Homo sapiens: one gene and its partner. The protein of the gene in region 1 interacts with the protein of each later gene in a pairwise test. Each region holds a gene or a part of one and is shown on either strand. Other genes may lie near its edges.

Evidence for each region. The genes of interacting proteins can lie anywhere in the genome.
Region 2: the proteins of FLT1 (region 1) and CRKL interact in binary tests that used the Homo sapiens proteins (3 or more experiments, as listed by UniProt).

The regions. Positions count from the first base shown.
Region 1 is NC_000013.11:28,429,073-28,432,720, reverse strand, and holds part of FLT1 (vascular endothelial growth factor receptor 1 isoform 1 precursor), read left to right. Parts: intron 1-1,410; coding exon 1,411-1,585; intron 1,586-2,553; coding exon 2,554-2,671; intron 2,672-3,648. UniProt on the Homo sapiens protein: Tyrosine-protein kinase that acts as a cell-surface receptor for VEGFA, VEGFB and PGF, and plays an essential role in the development of embryonic vasculature, the regulation of angiogenesis, cell survival, cell migration, macrophage function, chemotaxis, and cancer cell invasion.
Region 2 is NC_000022.11:20,930,878-20,934,525, reverse strand, and holds part of CRKL (crk-like protein), read right to left. Parts: intron 748-3,648; coding exon 282-747; intron 1-281. UniProt on the Homo sapiens protein: May mediate the transduction of intracellular signals.

The sequences.
Region 1 (3,648 bases):
GCACTGTCCAGCAGAACTTTCTGTGATGGAAATATCCCGTATTTGTGCTCCAGTACTGTGCCACTAGCCACATATGGCAGATGAGCACTTGAAATGTGACTAGTGTGACTGAGGAAATGAATTTTTGATTTCATTTAATTTTAATAGCCACACGTGGCTGGTGGCTGCAGTACTGGGCGAAGCAATTCTAAAACACAGGATGAGTTCTTTCCCAAGTCAGAAGCAATACCAGTGTTACTCAGCTTGGCAAAGGAAGTAGTACCTGTATAAATAGAGCTGCAGAAAGCTCCCTCAGTCTGTTACGTTAGGGGACTAGTTCTCTGACTTTTGATAGTGGCAATTGACTTTTCTCTCTGGTTATTGCTGAGAATGAAGAAAATGGCCTCAACATGTGTCTGTCTGTTCCAATGGGGAAGTAAAAGGACAGGTGGGTAGAAGTGTATTAAACGTGGCACAGAGGAGAACTAAGCTCAAGATCCAAAAATCAGTTCTGGACAGCTCCCAAAGACATTTTTCCATGCTCCTCCCCTCCGCCCCCTATGACTATGGGGAAGGATTGAGAGGTGGAAATAACTTATTAGTTATAAAATATAGTGCTTAAAAAAAAAAGGAGACGGCAATGTGATCTTGTCTTCTCAAAACAGTGAGCAGGACTGTCATTGTGGCCAGGTCAGATTGCAGAGCCTAAGGCTAATTCTTGATCTTCTCTGAGACAAACCTGGGACAGCACCTTCCAAGTCTTGGTTAAAGATCCATTTACTGTGATTTAGCTGACATGGGCAAGCACTGTTCAAATAGTGAAATAATGAAACTATAGCATTATTCCACCTTAGTAAGTACAGCCAAGACTCATTATATTTTCCTTCATATCTCGTAGGGACAAAAAAGGAAACTCACATGGTGATTTGGTGAGAGAAGCACTGTCATTAAGCCAGACACTAACTAAGGCTTATGATTGTCCACGTTTGTGTGCGATATCTATGCCTAGGGAACAGGTTACTGTGTAGAGAGGTGTGTGTGCCAGAGGAAGGACACTAGATTTATGCTCAAACAACTTCAGTTCCTAGCCAACTTGGGCCAGGGTATCACTTCCTTCAGTTTTTTCATCACTAAAAGGGCAGTCAGCCTGCCAATCTCATTAGGTTGTTGGGACAAACAATTGAGATAGTATATGTGAAAGTGTATTTGAAGAAAATTAAGTGCTAAATAAATCCTGCTATGCTACATATTTGAAGCACCTCTAGACACAGATGTAGTTTCCAAACATTACGCTCTAGGTGGATTTGACATGATTCTTAGTATAAAACAGAAGCTGTTGTCGAACTAATGATCTAAGAAATGTTAAAATCCTATATAACTTTAAGCATGAACACTCACTCCTTCTACATTTGTTATACATTTTCTTTCTAGAAAAATAAGAGAGCTTCCGTAAGGCGACGAATTGACCAAAGCAATTCCCATGCCAACATATTCTACAGTGTTCTTACTATTGACAAAATGCAGAACAAAGACAAAGGACTTTATACTTGTCGTGTAAGGAGTGGACCATCATTCAAATCTGTTAACACCTCAGTGCATATATATGGTAAGCATAGTTCAGCGTTGCCAACTCATGCTATGCTTTCTAATCATTGTAGATGTCTGTGTTCTCTAAATAAGTCAGTTTTCTGTTGGCCAAGAGTTACATTATCATGAATGAATACAGCTTGGCCATGGTTCCCTCCTCCCCCTGTCAAAAAGCAAACCACATTAAGTACTCTTTACATTTAATACTTTTGAATTGAACAGAGAGTCCTTTCTTTAGATGCTTATTATGGCTAATAATTCGGTTAGAACCTAATATATTTATGAAATTCTTAGTGTTCTGTATAAACAAAACAGAAAAAGATGATGAGTTTTATCTTTATTATCTAAGAAAAATTTCTCAGGTACTACCATGAATTAGAGAAATAAAAATATGGTATGCTAAATCATTTAGAATTAATGCTATTTTATTCCTGCTTTTACTCTCAAGGAATCCTAATGCTGTTGCTTAATTTCAGTATGCAAATTCTATAAAGAAAATGCTTAAAGACCTTATTTCCATTGCTGAAAAGGAAACAGTGTGGAGGGCAGAAACTATGGAACAATTCTATCAGTAGCCTTTATTTCCTTTTGTCTTTCTCCAGTTGATTTTTGATATCAAATTGGTTGTTTTAGGGTGTACAGAGCAACTTTTTCTCACCTTGCTTATAGTGGCCAGGTAGATTTTTAGAAATATCTTCCCACTTCTTTGTTATTGTGATAGAGATATTTAAGGTGTTTCACTTTCTGTTGCTCTGCCACTGTTTTATGTGGCTAGGACGTGATACCATTTGATTTGAAAGGCGTTCACCAATTACAGTGCTTTTAAAGTATCCTATTCATGATCAACATTTGGGCTCATTGATAGGCTCTATCATAATTCAGCTCTGTTTATTTACTCATTGATTACACCCTCCCTGAATGAGGCCCTAAGGTTTTGTTTATGGAAATTATTCTTTTCTAATGTATGTATCACTTCTCCTTTCAAAGATAAAGCATTCATCACTGTGAAACATCGAAAACAGCAGGTGCTTGAAACCGTAGCTGGCAAGCGGTCTTACCGGCTCTCTATGAAAGTGAAGGCATTTCCCTCGCCGGAAGTTGTATGGTAGGACCATCCTTATTTCCATAACAGTTTAAGACATACTTTGTAAGTGGGAAGCTGCAAGAGCCTAATGACTCGAATTCCTGACAAAATACCAAGAGACGTTCCTCAGACAGCCCCAGAGAGCTCAGAACTCTGTAGATTCTTGGGTGGTGGAGGTGAGAAGGGCTGGGGAAAAGGAAATAATGTAGCAAGGTAAGCGAGAGATGAGGTTTGTTTGAGTGCTCGCTTCAGTCTAGTCTCTTACTGTGGCTAACTTTCTGCATCTCTAAACCTTCCTATGATGTCAACATTCTTTGAATGGGATGTGTTGAGCAATGACTAGGAAGCATTTTGAATATGTAACATGCTCTATTAACCCTGAAGAAGTGGGCTCTTGTAATGAGAATGCTGAAAATAATTCTTTTATATACAGCTGGGTTGAAAGTTCCAGTCCTGTTTTAAAATTAAACAAACATTAATAGAGACAAGACTTACTCATTTGAAGAGGGGGACGATGGGGCCTATTTGAACTAATTAAGTTTTTTTTGGCTAGAAAGATACATATTCAAAACCTCCTTCAGCAGTTGTTTTTTAAAACACTGGTACAACACCTGATGTAAAACAATGTAATCTGTTTATGATCTGCAATCATTTTACAAAATTACTGTTAAATGCCAATATCTTTGGCTCAAGTCATTACATTTTAAACAAAGGGTATAGTACAAAACTGATTAGCAAAACAATCCATACAATAGGGATGTGGCGCCATTTTAGAATCTCCCTAACCAGAGCTGATTTGGCTTTCAATGTCATATGAGGGCAGTGTTTGTTTGCAGTTCCCTCAAATACTTAATAGGGAATTAAAGAGAAAATTTTAACTTTGTGCTATGTCTTCATGCCATTGCAGTAGAAAAATGATCTTTTTTGCTTCAGAATATCAAAAACGTTTAGTAGTAAATTTTTAGGTTTAATAGTAAATTGAATAGTAATCTGATGAC
Region 2 (3,648 bases), on another chromosome or scaffold:
GGTGGCTCACATCTGTAATCCCAGTACTTTGGGAGGTCGAGGTAGGAGGATTGCTTGAGGCCAGGACCTCGAAATCAGCCTGGGCAAACAACTCTTTTAAAATTAGAGACCTCGTCTCTATAAAAAAATTTTAAAATGAAACGCTAACAGTGCGTATCTTCCAAAATCATCCAGTGCTCTAATTCCATGAATATAAGCTTAAATGAGCAGAAACTAAACTAAAACTAAAAATTAAAACCAAATGTCAAAGGACCCAAAAAGCTAATCTGAACAGATTTTACCTCTAATGCCAAGGCAGTCTTGTCATAAGCACAGGGTACTCTTTTCTGGATTGCTTTCGCAAAGACAGGTCCATTCTGTGTGGATGGCAAAGGGGTGATTGCTGCCCCAGGAGAACCGGAAACTGCAGGTAGAGGAGTTGTGGTCTGAGGTTGAGCGTATGCATGAGCAGGTTCTGGGATCCCATAACTGTTGGAATTCCTATTTCCATGCTTTCCGTGTGGTGAGGATCTCACAAGCTTTTCGACATAAGGGACAGGAATCATCCCAACCCGGCCATCCTTGTTCCGGGCACTCCACCACTGTTCTTCAGGCTTCTCTATTATCACTAGGATCTCACCCTTTTTAAAGGGCAGGTCTTCGGCATCATTCCCAGGAAAATCATACAGAGTCCGTACATATTCCAGGTTATCTTCTGCTGTAGGCAGGTTGGGTGCTGAGACAGATCCCATTGGTGGGCTTGGATACCTTAAGAGAGAAAGAAAATTACTCTAAGAGAAAAATCTTACTCTAAGCCAGTGCCTGTCAAACTTCTTAATATACCACTCTCCTCTATAATAAATTATTTTCCTTTTTTATGAGACAAGTTTTGCTCTTGTCGCCCAGGCTGGAGTGCAATAGCGTGATCTTAGCTCACTGCAAACTCTGCCTCCCAGGTTCAAGTGATGCTCCTGCCTCAGCCTCCTGAGTAGCTGGGATTACAGGCGCCCACTACCACGCCCAGGTAACTTTTTTTATTTTTAGTAGAGAAGGGGTTTCACCATGTTGGCCAGGCTGGTCTTGAACTCCTGACCTCGGGCGATCCACGCACCTCGGCCTCCCAACGTGCTGGGATTACAAGCATGAGCCACCATGCCCGGCCTCTACATTTTTTTTGGAGATGGAGTCTTGTTCTGTTGCCCAGGCTGGAGTGCAGTGGCAGGATCTCAGCTCACTGCAACCTCTGCATCCCAAGTTCAAGCAATTCTCCTGCCTCAGCCTCCTGAGTAGCTGGGACTACAGGCACATGCCACCACGCCCCGCTAATTTTTTCTATTTTTAGTAGAGACGGAATTTCACCTTGTTAGCCAGGATGGTCTTGATCTCCTGACCTCGTGATCTGCCTGCCTCGGCCTCCCAAAGTGCTGGGATTACAGGTGTGAGCCACTGAGCCCAGCCTTTTTTTTGGAGACAGAATCTTGCTCTGTCACCCAGGCTGGAGTGCAGTAGCGCAATTTCAGTTCACTGTAACCTCTACCTCCCGTGTTCAAGTGATTTTTCTGCCTCAGCCTCCCGAGTAGCTGAGATTACAGATGTGCAACACCATACCCAGCTAAATTTTGTATTTTTAGTAGAGACAGGATTTTGGCATGTTGGCCAGGCTGGTCTCAAACTCCTGCTGGCCTCATGTGATCCACCCGCCTCAGCCTCCCAAAGTGCTGTCATTACAGGTGTGAGCCACCACGCCTGGCTTTATTTTCCTTTCTATATTCTTAGTAGTTAAGAAGGTTCTATCATGTTGTAATTTTTGTAGTCTGTACTGTCCCAAAAGTTACTATTCTGAATGTCTTTTCAAATTACAAGTATACACACACACATACACTCCATCTCTGTTTTACAGAAACCTTTTGATTACACAGAGATACCTGGTTTAAATTTATTTTTATAATCTCAAGTAAGTTCGGAAGCTGCCTTCCTTTGGACCCTTGTCACAACCACCACACACTCTTCCTCCCAGTCCTAATCTATGGCTTACATCCTGCACACTTCCCTGGACACACAGAAAATGACAAAGGCCTCTGCCTCTGGCCTCTTGAAAAAAAAGGAACAAAAAAGGGCTTACAGACTTGCCAAATTAAAAATAATAAATCCACCAGGCGTGGTGGCTCAGACCTGTAATCCCAGCACCTTGGGAGGCCAAGGCAGGCAGATGACTTGGAGACCTGCCTGTCCAACATATCAAAACCCTGTCTCTACTAAACAGACAAAAAATGAGCCGGGCATAGTGGCACACACCTGCGGTCCCAGATACTCAAGAGGCTGAGGCAGGAGCATTACTTGAGCCCAGGAGTTAGAAGCTGCAGTGAGCTATGACTGCATCATTACACTCCAGCCTGGGCAACAGAACAAGACTGTCTCAAAACATAAATAAATAAGAGGCCGGCGCAGTGGCTCATGCCTGTAATCCCAGCACTTTGGGAGGCTGAGGTGGGCGGATCATGAGGTCAGGAGATCGAGACCATCCTGGCTAACACGGTGAAACCCCGTCTCTACTAAAAATACAAAAAATTAGCCGGGCATGGTGGTGGGTGCCTGTAGTCCCACTTACTCAGGAGGCTGAGGCAGGAGAACGGTGTGAGCCCGGGAGGCGGAGCTTGCAGTGAGCCAAGATTGCACCACTGCACTCCAGCCTGGGTGACAGAGCGAGACTCCGTCTCAAAAAAATAAAATAAAATAAAATAAAAATAAAAATAAATAGCTAGCAAGAGTAGTAGGAGCAAGAGTAATAATAAAGAGCTCATACTTATTATCTATGCTAGGCATGGTTTACGATCTTTGAAGAGATTGGATTATTTAATAGTCTGTGAGGTAGATGCTGTTATTATCCCCATTTTACAAATGAGGAGCCAAAGAAGAGGTTAGACTTGCACTCAGGGAGTCTGGTTCTAAACTCTTCACTCATAATGAGCTAATCAGCCTTAGGGACGAACCCTGCATCTGTCAGGTGTATGAGAATTAATGGCATAATGCATGTGAGGCATTCAAAATTACCGAGCAGCACCAAGCATCCAATGTACCGACATGAACACACACATACCCCTTCAAGTATATCCCTGCTTCTATTTCTTTCTCTTTTTTTTGAGACAGGGTCTTGCTGTCATCCTGGCTGGAGTGCAGAGTGGCACAACCACAGCTCACTGTAGCCTCCACTTCCCAAGCTCAAGTGATCCTCCCACTTCAGCCTCCTGAGTAGCTGGGACTACAGGCAGTTGCCATCACACACAGCCAATTTTTAAATTTTCTGTAGAGATGGGGGTCTCACTATGTTTTCAGGGCTTGTCTTGAACTTCTAGCCTCAAGCAATTCTCTCGCCTTGGCCTCCCAAAGTGTTGGGATTACAGGTGTGAGCCATCACACCCAGCCCCTGCTATTTCAAGAGCCACAGAGAGCCTGTGAACAGTCCAGTAAGTACCATATAAATTTCAGACACTATTAAGAGCACAGTCAGTTCCACCTTAGACTCCATCCAAGAGTATTTTATTATTTGTATAGTTAAAAGCAGTTAGCCAGTGTGTGGTGGCTCACGCCTGTAATCCCAGCACTTTGGGAGGCTGAGGTGGACGGATCACAAGGTCAGGAGATTGAGACCATCCTGGCTAACACGGTGAA